Linked DNA regions of Homo sapiens. Changing the gene in region 5 together with the main gene of any one other region gives a genetic interaction. Each region holds a gene or a part of one and is shown on either strand. Other genes may lie near its edges.

What was found.
Region 1: changes in MAN1B1 (region 5) and IGF2BP1 together harm fitness less than expected from each alone (positive genetic interaction), as found in Homo sapiens cells (one large-scale study listed by BioGRID).
Region 2: changes in MAN1B1 (region 5) and RAB2A together harm fitness more than expected from each alone (negative genetic interaction), as found in Homo sapiens cells (one large-scale study listed by BioGRID).
Region 3: changes in MAN1B1 (region 5) and EZH2 together harm fitness more than expected from each alone (negative genetic interaction), as found in Homo sapiens cells (one large-scale study listed by BioGRID).
Region 4: changes in MAN1B1 (region 5) and SEC23B together harm fitness less than expected from each alone (positive genetic interaction), as found in Homo sapiens cells (one large-scale study listed by BioGRID).

The regions. Positions count from the first base shown.
Region 1 is NC_000017.11:49,042,385-49,045,884, reverse strand, and holds part of IGF2BP1 (insulin-like growth factor 2 mRNA-binding protein 1), read right to left. Parts: intron 2,458-3,500; coding exon 2,335-2,457; intron 1,919-2,334; coding exon 1,799-1,918; intron 895-1,798; coding exon 820-894; intron 1-819. UniProt on the Homo sapiens protein: RNA-binding factor that recruits target transcripts to cytoplasmic protein-RNA complexes (mRNPs). This transcript 'caging' into mRNPs allows mRNA transport and transient storage.
Region 2 is NC_000008.11:60,586,467-60,589,990, reverse strand, and holds part of RAB2A (ras-related protein Rab-2A), read right to left. Parts: intron 1-3,524.
Region 3 is NC_000007.14:148,828,792-148,832,315, forward strand, and holds part of EZH2 (histone-lysine N-methyltransferase EZH2), read right to left. Parts: intron 1,058-3,524; coding exon 937-1,057; intron 90-936; coding exon 1-89. UniProt on the Homo sapiens protein: Polycomb group (PcG) protein. Catalytic subunit of the PRC2/EED-EZH2 complex, which methylates 'Lys-9' (H3K9me) and 'Lys-27' (H3K27me) of histone H3, leading to transcriptional repression of the affected target gene.
Region 4 is NC_000020.11:18,524,940-18,528,463, reverse strand, and holds part of SEC23B (protein transport protein Sec23B), read right to left. Parts: coding exon 3,444-3,524; intron 2,677-3,443; coding exon 2,532-2,676; intron 2,092-2,531; coding exon 1,933-2,091; intron 969-1,932; coding exon 853-968; intron 1-852. UniProt on the Homo sapiens protein: Component of the coat protein complex II (COPII) which promotes the formation of transport vesicles from the endoplasmic reticulum (ER).
Region 5 is NC_000009.12:137,096,976-137,100,499, reverse strand, and holds part of MAN1B1 (endoplasmic reticulum mannosyl-oligosaccharide 1,2-alpha-mannosidase), read right to left. Parts: intron 2,673-3,524; coding exon 2,563-2,672; intron 805-2,562; coding exon 619-804; intron 1-618. UniProt on the Homo sapiens protein: Involved in glycoprotein quality control targeting of misfolded glycoproteins for degradation.

The DNA.
Region 1 (3,500 bases), on a different chromosome or scaffold from region 5:
AAGAGGAGGTAATTGTTAATCAGTGGTTCATATATCTGTGACAAAAGAGAAAAGTGGGAAAAAGGAAGCTCCAGCCCATATTTTCTGGCCCACAGGCCCTCCCCATCCTAGGCGGGCTAACCATCTAAGGCAGGTGAAGGGCAAGGCTCAGGTGGGCAGCTTGTCAGCATTCCTTCTGCTTAGCTATCATACTGGAGACCCTGGGTGGAGATTATGAGTTATGAGTAATTGAATAAACACTTCCCAAGGGAAAAAATAGTTCCCAGAGGAATCTAATTCACAAGCTACAAACCAGACCTATGGAATCTGGACGTGGCACTGACCAGCATTTCAAGGCCCTGAATGGCAACTAATCAAGTCACACAGAGGGCAGGCCTGTCTGACTCTCCAGTGGCCCAGAGAGCTGTCCCAGTCCTCTATCCTCACATATGTTAGGTTAAGCTAGTTGATGGTTCATTTTTTGGCTGTCTGATCAGAAGTTCAAGAACCTTAGGATTTAGTGGGGACATAAAAGATGAGAATTTGGCATTAAAGGCCTTCCTTAGAAATGACAGCAGAGTGCAAATAAGATGCCCTCAGACTTCTTTCCTTCCCATCTTCTTCTGTGGACCTTAAAAAGGGAAGACGAAGTCAACAGAAATCCAGTTTGATGTCAATTTGAAAATAGCTCTGCAGCCCTTTATCCTGCATGGAAGGCTTAAAGATGTGATGAGGACTTGACAGCTAACGGGAAACTGACCCAGCCTTTTTCCTACCTCAGGGGAAATACCCAACCTCAATTCCTCCATGTTCAGCTTGGAAAACAATAAAGACCAAAACCTTGAATTGGGCCTCTGGCGGTCCAGTGATGATAACCATACGAACTTTGGAGTCAGGTGTTTCGGGTGGTGCAATCTAAAAAGCAAAAAGCTAGTCAATGAGGGACCCTCTATGGGAAGACCCCCACCATGTCCACTTCATCCAGTTCCCCTTCTACCACCCTTACTCCCAACTACCCATTCTGAAGACTTAGGGGAGGAAGAACAAAGACCCTGAAGCCCACATCATTACGCCTTCACACCAGAATTATTAGGAGGGCAGAGGTGGTCAGTTAGAAGGATTGGCTTCAATGACACTTTCTAAGTAGGGCCTCCTGCCCCCTCCACCTACCAATCTCCCAGAGAGGTTTCAGTGGAGTCTTGCCAACAGGCAAGGACACAAATGAAATGACCAACGGATAGAGGGCAGTGACTGCACCTCCACTGGAGAACAATCAAGGTTTTTGCTCAAAGCTTTTAAGACAACTAAAGCAACCGGATTTAGGTTTGTGAAACTCTAACAGCATCCTTGTTTCACTATGACAGATTCTCCCTTCTCTCTCCCCTGGACCTTGGCCAGGGAAGGTGACAGACAACTAACACTTACTTGGTGTTAGTATGTGAGCGAAGGGCTTTGGCTGCGTAGCCTCATAATATTGTACTGACGAGGAAAGTGAGGCTCAGATCATATAGTGTATTGGGGGAAGGGGTGATGAGATGGATCTTGGATTTGAACCCATCAGTTTGTGTTAGAACCTAAGTTCTCTTTCTATGTTATAACCCTGCCCCTGCCCAGCCTGAAAACCCAGAAGCACTGAAGCCATCCCATGGGGACCAAGCAAGATCAAAAACAAAGAGGACTTCGATTCCATGGGGGAAAGGTCCCTCATATGACACACAGAATTCTCAAATGAGTAGGGGGAATATGGGAGAAAGTGCAGAGTGATAAAAGCAGAGACCCCTCCCTTTCCAGAAACAGGAAGACCCACAGAGCAGATCACCTTGATGGAGGCGCTGGCAAACCGGGAGAGCTGTTTGATGTGCTGCCCCTTCTTGCCGATGATGGCGCCCACTGCCTGGGCGGGGATAAACACCTGCACCATCTCCTGCTCGGGAGCCTGCTGCCAGGATAGGAGGCGTTGTTACCAGGGGGCCCAAGTAGCATGGCCCAGAAACCCTCCACTCCCCTGCCTTGCATCCTCAAGGAGGAAGGAGTACAGGCACCAAACCGCCACCCTGGGCTGCCAAGGGATGCTGTGAGCTCTTTAGCTCTTCCTATGCCCAGTAGGGCTAAAGGGAAGAGGCCAGGAGAGAGTAAGGGAACAGTGCTGTCTATGCCCCGGGAGCATTCTAGGCAGACATTTGGGAGCCTCAGAGCCAGTGGCTAGGAGCACTGGAGAGGAGGGATGCCTCTGAGACCTTCCTTCCCTCTCCCTGCAAACTTGCCAAGCATCCAACTCCCAGAGCATGCTGAGTCCCCCTTAAGGGAGGCCACATATGGGCCCAGGGATCCCGTGTAATAAGATCTTCCACCTACCATAAAGGAGCTATAGGGAGCAGCCCCAGTAACGCTGCTGGGAGGCGGCGGGACTGCGCTGGATGAAGCTGGGAAAAGACCTACAGCAGCCAGGTTCAGGCCAGGGATCAGGTGAGACTGCAGCTGGGGAAGAAAGATGAGGAGGAAGAGTCAGCACACCCTGACAGGGGCTTGTGTGTGACCCCCGCTGTATAAAAGGCGAGTAGCCCCAGAGGCAAGTGGGCCAAAAACATGAATTACATACTTTTCCACAAAAGCCTATTCTGTGCTTTTCATACACTCTCACCTACACACTTCGGGTGTGGAATTTTAAGTGATATGATGTTCTCACTGGACTAACGGCTAGCAATTGCAACCAGAAATGCCAAACAGTTGTACACCCTCAGGAGTCCTTCCTCTCTGGCTGTTCAGACTGCTGGAGACAGACGATAGACCCATGACACTATACTATAACCCCCTATATGAGAAAAAGGCGTGGAGACAGAGCTCCATTGGACTTCTAGGACTCTGATTCTAAACATTTTTGGTCCTGTACCCCAACCCCAAGTCTCCTTTAAAAATCAGATGAGTTGTGTGCAGTGGCTCATGCTTATAATCCTAGTACTTTGGGAGGCCAAGGTAGGAGAATCGCTTGAGCCCAGGAGTTCTAGACCAACCTGGGTGACACAGCAAGACCCTGTTTCCAAAAAATAAAATTTTAAAAAATTAGCTGGGCATGGTGGTGTACACCTGTAGTCTCCTAGGTACTTGGGAGGCTGAAGCAGGAGTATTCCTTGAGCCCAGGGGGTCAAGGCTGCAGTAAGCTATGATTGCGCCATTGTGCTCCAACCTGGGCAACATACCAAGACCCTGTCTCAAAAAAATAAAATAAAAATCAGATGAAAACGATGGACCCCCTCATTTCAATAAAGTGCACACAAACACAAATTGTACACATACTTGGAATCACAGGACTCAAAGCCCAAGATTGGACCCCTACTCTAGGAACCAGGTGAAGAATCCTTGCTAATTAAATACTATTTAAATACTATTTCTGATAGTCGAAGTCCAAAAGCATCAACTAAAGCTCCAAGGCCACACGGCACAGGGCACATGTCCATCACCCTGCACCCCACAAGCTGCTGTTGCTAAGACTCAGGAAAGGATAAGCAGAGGGTACTACCCAG
Region 2 (3,524 bases), on a different chromosome or scaffold from region 5:
GACTCCATCTTGGGAAGGGAAAAAAAAAAGAAACAATATAAAATATCAGAGTCTATCACCTATATACATAAGTTCCATCTACTGTTTCATGGAACTTACGTATAAAGGTATAATTTACGAATATTTTGTTATATGTGTAGGTGTATACACAATTTATTTACTAGGTCATGATGTAAAATACATTTCTTACTATAGGTCAAATCAAAAAACTCAAAAGCCATAGTACTTGACGATATACTTAGTGCAAAGTTTTAAAAATACCTCAGTTTTCCAGGCATTACATCATATTGTTGTCTTAGTTCACTCCCTCTGAATCCCACTTAAGTTGCTTAGGTTACTTAAGTATCTTTCTTTTAATTTATGGCCCCTTTTTGTTTAGGGTTTGCATTACAACCCTTACACTATTAAAAAACTTTCATTTTTTAAATCTCTGCTTCCTATTTCTTATATAACCAATTTATTAATAAAATGCCATAGTAAGAAAAATTTGTGTCATCTGTTGCTCTGACTAGGTCACTGCCCTTCACTGGCTCCCTACTGCTTAATGCGTCTAATTCAAAAATTGCTTATTCCCTGTTTTGATGTCTATCCACAGTTCAATTCATCTAAAAATAATCATCTCATTTATTTCTCTCTGTTCTTTCTTGTTCGTTATACTCCTGATTTTAAAGGTCACCCACCTACGATCATCAGAAACATCTCGTTTACATACTATGCTTTGTTTATTTCTTCTCACATTTGAACTATCAGCTCCTAGTGGTCGGTGACCAAATTTAAGCCACCAGTAAGCTGTCACTCATCATGTTTCAGCCACAAGGAAAAAATTGGTAAAATAAAAGGATAAAAATTCTCTTTATTTTCCAAGTATTCTCCTCTTATTATTTCATACCTTGAATGACAGAATAACTATTTCCATCATAGAAAGACTAAAACTTCCCTCCAATAGCTTTATAACCTTAAAAAGGTTTAGTGAGATGATTTAAATGTGGAAAAGAATACCCAAGAAAGGCCTTCAGAGAATATGATAATAGTTTCTTCTCTACACAAAGAAGTAAACAATGTTTAGCTTTTTATAATGTAAATATCACTTAGGTAATATTTTCTCTTAATAGCAAATCTCAATTTCTATTAAAACAACACTCTAAAATCTATACAGTATAACGATGTTTTACATTATAGCTTTTTTGAGGTGTAACAGACATAAAAGAAGTTGTACTTAAATGCAAAATTTGTTGAGTTTTAAGATATGTAAGCCCGTGAAGCCATCAGTCTCCCAAAAGTTTCCTCATACTCCATTGTAATCCATCCCTTCTTGCCCCTGCACCCTAGGCAGCTGATGATCTGCTTTCTGCCACTACAGATTAGTACACATTTACTAGGATTTTTATATAAATGTAATCACATGGTATTTTTGGTCTGAGTTTTTTCACTCTGTAATTATTTTGAGAATCATCCATTTTGCTGCATGTATCAATAGTTCATTCCTCTTTATAGCTGAGTTGTAGTCTGTTGTAATGCTGTATCACTATTTTTCGATTCATCTGTTAATTGATATTTGGGTTGTTTCCAGTTTGGGGCTATTAGAAATAAAGCTGGTATGAATATTTGTACATAATTCTGTGGACACATGAAGACATATTTATGTTGGGTAAACATCTGGGAGTAAAGTGGCTAGGAAATATAGATGTGTGCTTTATTTCTTTTTTTTGAGACAGGGTCTTGCTCTGTGGCCTAGGCTGGAATACAGTGGCATGATCATGGCTCACTGCAGCCTTGACCTCTCAGGCTTAAGTGATCCTACCACCTCAGCCTCTGGAGTAGCTGGGACTACAAGTATGTACCACCATGTTCAGCTACTTTTTTAAAAAATTTCTTATTTTTGTATAGAAGAAGTCTCCCTACATTGCCCAGGCTGGTCTCAAACTCCTAGGCTGAAGCAATCCTCCCGCCTCGGCCTTTTAATTTCTAAAGAAACTACCAAATTGTTTTCCAAAGTGATTGTATCATTTTACGTTCCCATCAGTAGTATATCTTCTGTAGTAATTGCTGGTTCAAATCTTTAGATCATTTTTAAAAAGTGGATGTCTTCTTATTAATGAATTATAAGCATTCTTCATATATTCTAGATATAAATCCTTTGTCAGATACATTTTTCACAAATATTTTCTGCTAGTCTGTAGCTTGTCTTTTCATTTTTGTAACCGTTTTTCTTCAAATTTATTTATTTAAATTGATAGGTAAAATTGCATATATTTATCATGTACAACATATTGTTTTAAAGTATATATACACTGTGGAATGGTTAATCTAGCTAATTTGCATTATCTCACAGTTATCGTTTTTTGTGGTGAGAACACTTAACATCCACTCTTTCAGCATTTTTCCAGAATGCACTATATCATCATTAACCATGTCACGATGTTGTATAATAGTGTAACCGTCTTTTGAAGAACAAAAGTTTTAAATTCAGTTAAAGAACAATTTATTGATTTTTTTTCTGAACTATAAGTTCATGCTTTTCTCTGTCCCATTTAAGAAATGTTTGCCAAAACAGGGTCACTACAATTTGTTTTCTTTTAGAAATTTTAAGTAGTTTTAGCTCTCACACTTAGGTCTATGATCCACTTCCAGTTAATTTTTGTAAATGGTATAATGTAACAGTTGAGGTTCATATTTTTACATATGACTATTAACTGTTTCAGCACCATTTGATGAAAAAGATTACCCCTTCTTCAACTAAATTAGCATCTCTGTCAAAAAATTAATATATCATATATATATGAATCTACTTCTGGAACTTCTTATTCGGCTCTACTGATCTATGTCTGCTTATGCCAAACAATAGTAAATTGACTATAGTATAATAAATCTTAAAATTTGTAGAATAGTAAATTCTCTCCAATATTGTGCCTCTTTGTCAAAGTTGATTTGGCTATTCCGTGGCCTTTGCACATAAACTTTAAAGTCAGCTTGTCAATATCTACCCTCCCAAAAAAGTCTGCCAATGTTTGATAGTTTGATTAGGGTTACAATAAATCTTTTTTTTTTTTTTTTTTTCTTGGAGACAGAGTCTTGCTCTTTTGCCCAGGCTGGAGTGCAGGTGGCACAATCATAGCTCACTGCAACCTTGAGCTCCTGGATTCAAGTGATCCTCTCACCTCTGCTTCCTGAGTAAGTAGAGCTAAAGGCGTGTGCCAGCATGCCTAGCTAGTTTTTTTTAATTATTATTTTATTTTTTGTAGAGATAGGGTCTTGCTACATTCTCAGGCTGGTCTTGAACTCCTTGCCTCATGTGATGCTCCTGCCTTGGCCTCCCAAAGTGCTGGGATTACAGATGTGAGCCATTGTACCTGGCCTTCAATGAATTTTTAGATAAATTTGAGAAGACATCTTATATTTAGTTTTACAATCCATGAACATGGTTATATCTCTTCATTTATTTAGTCTGTTTACAATATTCTCTCTCTTTTTTTTATCTATAGTGATGTCAACCTTTCTTTCCTGATATTGCTAATGTTTGTCTT
Region 3 (3,524 bases), on a different chromosome or scaffold from region 5:
GTCTCCATCATCATCATCGTCATCATCATTATATTGACCAAGGGCATTCACCAACTCCACAAAAATTTCATCATTTATAAACCCACATTCTGAAACGCATCAAATGTCAGAAACACACAGGAGAAGCAATAATGTCAAAAGTTTATGTATCCTTTTTCTACTTGGACAAAACAGGCATAGCCTAGTAACTGGCACTAAAACATTATTATTGAAATGAGGGGAGGAAAAGATAAGATCATTTTCAGGACTGGTGTTAGGCAAAGGAAGCAAACTTATCTTTAATACCTGCTACTTTCTGTAGAATGGCCCCTCCCCAAAACTTTCTAGTAGAAAACTGAATCTTCTAGGAACTGATTGTGGCTTTGGCCTCCTCCCAAACAATGGATCTGTCCTTTAACTGATCATTTCAGACCCTGCTTTCTGCTGATAATGACAATGGATGATGATATTACAAATATTATCCTTTCAGACACTTTAACAGGGCCTCCTGGACACAAAAAACTGAAACCATGACTCTAAGGATTGAATTTCAGGTACTGTAGTCCCTAGAGGAGCGGTATTTTTTAGTAGTAGGGGCTGTTGGAGCCCCTATATGCCACAGAAGCAGAGCCCCAATCCTAATTAATTTTACTACTAAAGAATCTTAAAATCTACATACACTCAAGTTCTATTTAATTTACATGTTATTGCCATTATGTTATAACCAACTATGCATAATTATCAGGTGGCAAACATGATCCTCCTAACTAATTTTCCCAAAAATAGTTAGGGAAAATACTGAAAATCTTAGGCCTGGGCCCAGGTTCAGTCCCTTATAGTTCAGTGCAAAACTTAATTTTAATATTAAAATTTTTCTCATGCCCTATATGCTTCATAAACAAAAGTGTCTCTCAATTCTTTAGCCCCTTTTTCCAAGAGAAGAAGCATATGGCTCACCTCTATCCCCGTGTACTTTCCCATCATAATTTTTTATTAGTTCTTCAATGAAAGTACCATCCTGATCTAAAACTTCATCTCCCATATAAGGAATGTTATGTAAAACAGTTTCATCTTCCACCTAAAAGAAAAAAATATATTTAAAAAGCAGGTTTACTCTAAGTATCAAATGTGAAATAACTAAAATACAACCTTTTTTTCATGTGTACATGTCTTTACCCAGTTCTCCAGATTTAAAATACTAGTCAGAGAGCAAACTCTAAAATTTATCAAAAAATAAAAGACCCCTCTCACCAATAAGCATATCTGAGAAAACTGTTGACAGAAAAAAAATTTAATTCTAGAAAAAATAATGCACTTAGTCTGTCATCAATCATTAAAACTTACCACCATTATTGTACATACCTCTAAGAAAGAAAAAGATGCTCTAGATTATGAGAAGACATCGTCTGTTTTTCTGTTTTTGTTTTTTAATTGAGACGAGTGTCTCACTATGCTGCCCAGGCTGGTCTCGAACTCCTGAGCTCAAGTGATCCACCCGCCTTGGCTCCCAAAGTGCTGGGATAACAGGTGTCTGACACCATGAGCCACCATGCCCAGCCATCATCAGTTTTAACGCGCACTTTAGATGTTAATAGAGGATGATGAAATATGGTGTATCAAGATCAACTATAAAGACCCATACCAAAAAACTACCCTAAGACTCCCAAACTCCACTTGATGATCCAGTTATTAAAACAGCCATTAACTTGTAATAGTTTAAGGTAAAATGAAAAAAAAATGTAAGACATCCAATATAATAAAATTCTAGGGATACAGAGTATTGATAGTCCATTAAAGTTTATGCCAAAAGGATATGTACTTATATGTAAAATAAGAACATTCTACAAAAACATAAAATATTTCAATATTTAGATGAATGAGATGAATATCAAAGTTGACAGTGCTAGTAAAGATGATAGATGAGTTTTTATCAAGCTTTGGAAGACAACAGAGAAGAAAGAAGAATAGCCAATCAAACAAAAGTTAAGACAGAATAGAATAGTTAAGCATACAAGGTAAAGAAAGTTGACATTCATAGGAGGAAGAGCATTTTCAATGAAGAATAAAAATGACAGCAGTTATAGATAAAGACTGGACAGTTCTGAAGTACATGTTTAAAGAGACTAATTCCAAGTGAAGACAAGTCTAAGTCTTAAGAGGCCTTTGAAAAGAGTATTGGTTGAAAACAGAATTTTAGAAAGATAATTATAATAAGCAGAATGGACTGGCTATGCCTGACTGGGAGGACACAGAAGCTCTTTAAAGGGTGAGATGGCGTAGGCTCGGCCCAGCACTATGATCATGGCCCACAGGTAAGAACACGCTGGGAAAGGCCACACACAGGACTAGTAGCAGCCAGGGAATGTGGAAAAAATCTCAAATAATCCCTAGGTAACAAATTTAGGACAACTGGAGAGTTCATAAAGATAACAAGTACCGTAGACAGACAAGGAAAAGAAAAAGTGGGATAAAAGGAGCATATAATTAAAATGCAGGTTTTAATGTATTCATATATTCAAATTCAAGCTTATGTACACACTAGAGGCCTGTTTTCATCTCATTTCACTTGCACTAATCTCATTTAAACTAGGGGTTGATTTCTTTCTATCTAAGCCAAAATCAAGTGACACTTAGATATTTTGTCTTTTCAATCATATCCACATCATCCTGCTCTCCAAAACGTATCTTAGTTACAATAAAGATTGTGTGCCTAATCTGCTTTGGTCAGCAAAATCAGACAGGGTCTGGCTCTGTCACCCAGGCTAGACCAGCAAAATCCATGGGTGATTCATAAATTAATGACAAATTTAAATAATATATTCTTCCAGAATTTCAGTCTGTGAAAACATGAAACTTCCCTCAAGGTCATGCAATGTAATTCTCAAACTACACTCAAATTTATACAACTACAGAAGAGTAACTGAAGTTGAGACTCTACTGTACAAAGTATAAAAGTTACTAAAAACTTCCCCAAAGCAGGTTCACCAAGGACTTCTATCAACATTTTATTAGCCTTCCCACTTTATATATCAATTAAGTAATACAACTATATATTTTTTATTTAGCAATACAAGTCAAGAACACATGCTTCAGTTTCTCTTTAGCATTTTATTACAAAAGCTGCTGCGTCAGAGTTAGCAATGGAACTATGTTTCAGCTCATGTTTCACAAGCCCTATGAATTTTACACCATAATGTACATTATCACAATAAAATGCTACCTAAAGTTGTTTTAAATAATAAGTTCTCAATTAACAAAAACTCAAAGTCAGACTTAGATTACAGGACACTGACTTTTTTAAGGATAAGAACTATAAGCTTCATTCCTTTTGTTTTTTTCAGACAGGGTCTGGCTGTCACCCAAGCTAGAGTACAATGGCACAATCTCAGCTCACTACAACCTCCGCCTCCCTCAAGCCATCCTTCCACCTCAGCCTCCTGAGTAGCTTGGGACTACAGACATGCGCCACACCCAGCTAACTTTTGTTTTGAGGACACAGCGTTTTGCCATATTGCCCAGGTGGATCTCCAATTCCCAGACTCAAG
Region 4 (3,524 bases), on a different chromosome or scaffold from region 5:
TCAGGTCTAGAGTGAGGCTCAAGATGCTGCATGGTTCTCAAACTCGGCTCTATGTTAGAATCACGGGAGAAACTTTTAAAATGCTGATGCCCAGGCTGCACCTCATGCTAATTAAATTAGAATCTCTGAGGACAAGACCTAAAGAAAGTGTAGCTTTTAAAGTTCCCCTGGTGATAACAATACGTAGGCAGCTGCAGACCAGTGCTCATCAGTGGTTCCTACACTTTCATGTGCCCTAGAATCTCCTAGAGAGCTGCATTCCCGGGGTTTCCGATTCAGGAGGTCTGGGTAAGGCCTAGAAATATACAATTCCAATCAGTTCCCAGGAGCCCCTAAGGCTGCAAATCTGGACACCACCACATGTTGAGAACCACTGCTCCACACTCTGGCCTGTGAATACAATACTGACTCAGGCTTTGAGTCAGTACAACCTCTAGGCTGAGTGCACTTGGAGTTAGTCACAAAGTATGGCCACTTAGCCAGGTTTATCCTAGTTGTTTCAGCATTCAGACCCTGTTTTCCCCAATTCTCAAAAGGAAGTGCCCTGATGAAGGCCAGATAGTCCATGCTGCTTGCTTTCTTGGCCTGGTCTCTGTAAAAGTGTTAACAACTCTAAGGAAGAAATAAGTTACTCTGAAACGACTTATTTGTAGTGAACTCTTGAGCCCTCCTACTAATCACTACTTCCCTCTCCAAGGAGCCCACAGGCCCTCCCCAGTCACTGAAACCATAGCCCAGAGCTACCTGAAAGCTTCTCTGAGTTGGCCTTGCCCATTCCTATGGCTCCATCACTAATTTCTCTTTCCTTAAAATAACACTGTCACTCTGCCCAGGTTTTCACTGTCAACATACCCAGTAAGATTTGCACAACACTTCATCTCCAAAAGTCCAGTTTGATCAAGGGCACAAGCATAAATATCAATGCAGTGACCATTTGCAGCTGTTCGATTAGCAAGCATCTCATAGTGCTGTGAAGAGAGGAAAGCTATCTTTAGGAAACAGTGACATTATTCCCAAGGTATGCCTGAATTACCGAAGGAGGTAATCAAATATAAAAACATGTAAATCATTTTCTTTTCTCTTTTTGTGACAGAGTCTCTCTCTGTTGCCCAGGCTAGAGTGCAGTGGTGCGATCTCCACCTCCCGGGTTCAAGTGATCATCCTGCCTCAGCCTCCCAAGTAGCTGGGATTAAAAGCGTGCGCCACCATCCCCAGCAAATTTTTGTATTTTTATTTTTATTTACTTTTTGAGACAGTCTCACTCCGTCACCCAGGCTGGAGTGCAGTGGCACGATCTCAGCTCACTGCAACCTCTGCCTCCCAGGTTCAACGGATTCTCGTGCCTCAGCCTCCCGAGTAGCTGAAATTACAGGCACATGCCACCATGCCCAGCTAATTTTTGTATTTTTAGTACAGACAGGCGTTTCGCCATGTTGGCAAGACTCGTCTCGAACTCCTGACCTCAAGTGATCCGCCCACCTTGGCATCCCAAAGTGCTGGGACTACAGGCGTGAGTCACCACTCCTGGCTTAAATTTTGTATTTTTAGTAGAGATATGGTTTCACCACGTTGGCTAGGCTGGTCTTGAACTCCTGACCTGAAGTGATCTGCCAGCCTCGGCCTCCCAAAGCGCTGGGATTACAGCCGTGAGCCACCGGGACTGGCCTGGAAATCATTTTCAAAAATATCTGAATAAAATAAAAATATAGTTTTCATTCTCAAAACCCTTTGAGTAGTTTTAAGGCCACCCACTCTAATTAAGGTCTGAAAGTAGGAGCAATAATTTAACAGCAGCTAAGATTGGAAAACTGTCTCTGAAACAGCGTCTTGCTGACCATGACACATGACCTTGGCAAAGTAGCTGTCACTCCAGAGCAGCCCAAACCTGACAATGGGCTTTCAGAATTACAGCCCATACCCAAGAGCACCTACCTTGGTTGCCTTTTTCATGAATCGTGCATTATCTTTCTCAATATCATGCCAAGAACGAATAGGAATCTTTAATTCATCTCCAACCACCATGCCAGGCCCTTGGGTAGGGGGACCTCCAGTAAACAGCATGATCCTGGCTCCTGTGTTTGGAAAAGTGCCCTAAAATAGCGAATGGCAGCATGTTAGAAGTATACAGCCTCACCTTTTAGTATGGTTTCAGTTTCCCAATAGAAATACTCCAAAGATGCATTCTCTCCAGCTGTCCTAAAAAGTGGTGATAATGCAGAATAATACAGATGATAATGCAGAAAAGCAGCACTTGTCTTCTTCCAACCTTATGGGTTTGCACAGTTTTATTAATTCGCTGTTTGAGTGCTCCCTATTGCTCTAATTCTTAGTTTTTCAATGAAAACTTTTGGCATTTTCAAAATGTTGAGGGGCTCCCTCAACGTGAATGATAATGATGCCTCAAATGCTTTCTGATACATTAACACAGACGGTTGACTTAGATCACAAGTGATTTTCAAACAAAGCCAACAAATATATTTTCTGAGAGCACATTTGTATGATTTGAGAGGTCCTGGTAAATTTTAAATTACCTCCAGCAAGCCAACAGCAATGGACAAAGCCACACCAGTGGATCGCAAAGGTCTCTTCCCCTGAGTTACTGGCCATGGGTCCCTCTGTAGCTCCCCAAGAAGATCAGTGAGGTTCATATCAATCTTGTGAACAGGCTGCAGAAATCTGCAAGATTTTAACAGACACATCAACCCAGATTGAATAAAGTACTCTGGTCTTCAACACTAGGTGCCACATAATTACTGCTCTTCAAGATAATTATTCAGAGTAGTAACTGACTGGTAATTTTTTTCTTCAAAGCTATCTCTCTACTAACACAAAACAATTTAAAGCAGTTTTATTGAGGAATATAAAGCCCAGTACTTAGCAATTTACTTATGTTGCACGGAAAAAAAAATTGTCTGGAAAAGGAGCAATTCAGTTTAATTAATTTTTAGACAGCAAAAAAATCCTAAGGACATGCCTAACATGAGTTCAGTCTATGTGAGGTCCATTTATGTGGACAATCTTCATCATTCCTCATCATTCTAATCTGTGCTTCTCTTAAGCCTTGAAAGTAAGAGGTTGTCTTCAGCATGTCGGGCAATGCATTTTATCGAGCTTGTTAGCTCAGTCTAGGCACTCAATGGGCTGAGTCAAGTGAATACCCGGTCATAAGTATGTTTGAGGACACATGAAAGAAGTCTTTTCAGTTTTTCCAGTTTTACTTAAGCATCAAAAAGGACATCAGATGTGGAATGTCTAAAAACAGCAATTGAGCACAGTGGTCTCCAAACCTTTTTGACAAAACACTGAATATTGATTAGGCTTAATCATTTATCTTTTTCTCTAATAATAAGAAAATACAAATTCTAATATTTTTCTTCCCTTACTCCCATGGATCATCTGCATGTCCATCACAATACGTGTAACACTCCATGTTGGGCTCTCACCTGCTTGAAGCAAAAGGGTGCTCCTGTGGTTGTGCAGGTCGTGCTTGCTGCATGGGCATGGCTGGCTTGGTCAGGCCCAAC
Region 5 (3,524 bases):
GGGCGTTATCGTTCCCCTGCAGGGCTTCAATATCACCTCCTATCTCAAGGGGGTAAATCTTGAAGTCGTCAACATTTGTTAATAAAACGGAGTCAGCAGTGCAGTTGCTATGGCCACCAATGGGTCACAACCAAAGGCTACGACCCAAAAAAATTACACACGTCGTTTACTGGTGGTCTTCAACCTATTCAAAAAATTAGGCAAATGTTTAAATTATCGCTTAAATAACCGAAGACACATACTCCCAATTCAAAGTGGATGTGCTGGTCTATGAAGGATGCTGCTGAGATCTGGGACCAGCGGGGCCCCACAGTCACTCATCCCACCACCCCCAGCTGCAAGAGAAGCACAGCCTGGGAATGTCCCTTGGACGTCCCCCAAAGAGTCCACACTCAACTCCTGCAGAGGTCTGGGGACAGCGGCCCTGTGTGTGCCTTGGGTGGCTGGACAAGAACAGGAACTGACCACAGCCAACACGTCCACTCCCGCACCCAGGAGAAGGGAAAACCCATGGTCAGATGCAAACAGCAGCTTTCACCCCGTGTGCAACCCACACTCTGCCTCAGCACACGAGGCCCACACGGAGGGCTCAGCCCCTCCCCAGAAAGCACCAGGTACCTTTCCTCAGACCCAAGATCCACATGGTGTCCAGCGCGTCGATCAGTGTGAGACCGAGGCCAAACCACTCACTGAAGGACCTGGACACAGGCTTCAGCTCGTCATGGCCCCATGCAAACTTGCGGTATCCTTTCCATGCATGCAGGAAGACGTCAATCACGCCCTTCTGGCGATAGTTCAGATGCACTAGTAGGGGGGAGAGAGCACAGGCCATGGCGGACGTGGTCCTGGCGTCGGCACAGATGGACACCCTCAGGCAGAGCACTGCTGTGACCCCCATGGGGCAAAGATGACGGTGGGTTTGGGACGACGGGAAGGGCGGTGGTGGGCACAGCAAAGGCCAGGGCCACAGAGGCTGCAGCAGCCCCCAGGGAGAACACAGCCTGCCAAGGGCCTGAGACCTCTGGAGACTGCACAGGATGGCACCTGTCACCCGACCACCTGACTGGGGCCCATGCACCTCCACCTGGCGCCTGGGCAGGCACACCCTCCTTGGGCCTCGGTGGCCTCTGGCCAAAGGGACAAGGGTGGCTGCCCCAAGGGCGCTGGGACAGCACAGTGAGCACAGCCTGTGGAGACGTGGGTGAGTGTGGTGCCAACTCAGAATGTGAAACACGGACGGGTGCAGACCTCGCGATGAACATCCTCGACTCAAACACGCTCCTTCTGCCACGTGGGCTTCAGGTGCTCCACGGGAATCGCACTGTGCACACGCGCTACAGTCCCTTCGTTCCCTTTTTTTAAATTTTTTTGGCTGGGCACGGTGGCTCCCGCCTGTAATCCCAGTACTCTGGGAGGCCGAGGTGGGCAGATCACCTGAGGTCAGAAGTTTGAGACCAGCCTCGCCAACATCGCGAAACCCCGTCTCTACTAAAAATACAAAAATTAGCCAGGTGTGGTGGCGGGTGCCTATAATCCCAGCTACTAGGGAGGCTGAGGCAGGAGACTTGCTTGAACCCAGAAGGCAGACGTTGCAGTGAAGTGACAAAGCAAGACTCTGTCTCAAATATACACATATATATAAATTTCTTTTTTTTTTGTAGAGATGGGGCCTCACTGTGTTGTCCAGGCTGGTCTTGAACTCCTGGACTCAAGAGATCCTTCTACCTCAGCCTCCCAAAGTGCTGGGATTACAAGTGTGAGCCACCACGCCCGGCCAACATTGACTAATGTGTGGATTGACACGTGTGTAACGGCACCAAACCACACGTCCTCTCAGGAAAGGTTCTGAGGCCTCCTTGTGCTCATGGCATGTCTATGCCTCTGCCTCTGCCTCTGCCCTCATTGATGCCGCAGAGATTGCTACACATCCCTCACAGGCCCGGGGCTGGGAGTCCTGGCTCTGGGCTCCCTCCCCACCTCAGAGACACCTGGGGGGCATGATGAGAGCAGGGCTCCAGACTCAGCGACCTGCCATGAGCCCCCACAGACAAGCAAACGACTCTGGGGGTGGCTGTCCTCAGCCCTGCTTTTCAGTCTGGAGAACGGGAGGGTGAGTGGCTTATCGTGTCAGAGGGTGTCATGAGGTTGAAAGAGGCCTCAGGTCATGCACTGAGCTTGGCCGAAGGCCCGCACCTGGGAGGCCCCCAACAAACGGTGCTGAGAATGAAGTGGCCCCCAGAGCTGCCTGGGACTGGCCAGGCCGAGACAGGGGACACAGCACGGGCAGCAGTCTCCAGGGATCCCGTGGGGCAGCCTGGCCCAGACACAAACCTCTCAGACACACCTTCTTCTGCAGCCATGTGCTCAGGGACAGCAGGCCAAGAGCCACATGGTGTCACCAAGGTTGCAGAGCCTGTGAGGACTCAGACAACAGGGGGATGCTGAAGGGCAAGGTGCACACCAGGGCGGGGGCGCCACCCACCATGGCTGAGACGAAGCCTGCACCCATCAGCCACCAGCCCCTGAGCGCCCGGGGAGGAAGGGGTGCAGGTGTGGCCTCACCTGGTGTGCCCTGTGTCCTGGCCGGTGGCAGGGGAGGCTTGGTGGGCACTTCTGCTCTTCTTGAAGGGAGCTCGGTGCCCTGCTCAGGCTCGATCACCGCTCCCCTCCAGCTTCGGGGGAGAAGGAAGGGTGTCAGCTGCCGTCAAACATTTGTGGCTCCATGTTTCCCACCCCCACGCTCCATACCCACGGCCAAGGCACAGCCCTGCACCCAAAGCGGCCCCATCATCCTGAGGTGCAGGCTGCTGAGTGGCAGGAAACACACAGTTCAGTCCTGAGCTCCCGTGCCTGAGAGCCAAGACCACAGCACTGCTCCAGGGTCAAGGCTGGCCTGAGGTCAGAGACCAGAGCTTGGAGAATCGTGAGAAATCCCTCTGCAGAGGCCGGAGGCGGGGGGCCTCTATGGTGGAGGAGTAGAGAATCTTTCATCCAAACAGGAGCACTAGTGACAGTGAGGTGGCCCCAAGATGCCAGGATGGCCACACAGACGGGGGCTGTCCCTACACACGAGACGCATGGCCACTCAAACTCCCCATCGAGTTCTGTCCAATGGCCATCAGGAACAGCTATGAGGTTGTGTAGAGGGTTTGCCGCGCAACCTCCTAACTGTGGCTGGGCCCGAGCGTTCTCTTGGGGCCCTGTGGTGAATCTGTCCCAGGATCAGCAAAAGGCCTCTTACAACCACAGATGGCTTACATGCTGGGAGTACAAACGTGGCACTTTTGACAAGCTGAGGTCAAATCCTCTTTTGCTCTGGAAGTAAAGCGTCCTTGCATTCATGCCAACGCTAACTAGAGCACAGTGGCCCTCAAATTCTCCTCCTGGCCGTGAGGACCCCTCACATGCACATGTCCACGCCTCTCACCACGCGCTTGAGTTCAGGGCCTCTGGGCCCGTTTCTTCGGAGCCCATCTCTCACGGCGGACAGCGCTTGTCTCAGGCCACTCCTGCACAGCAGCCCT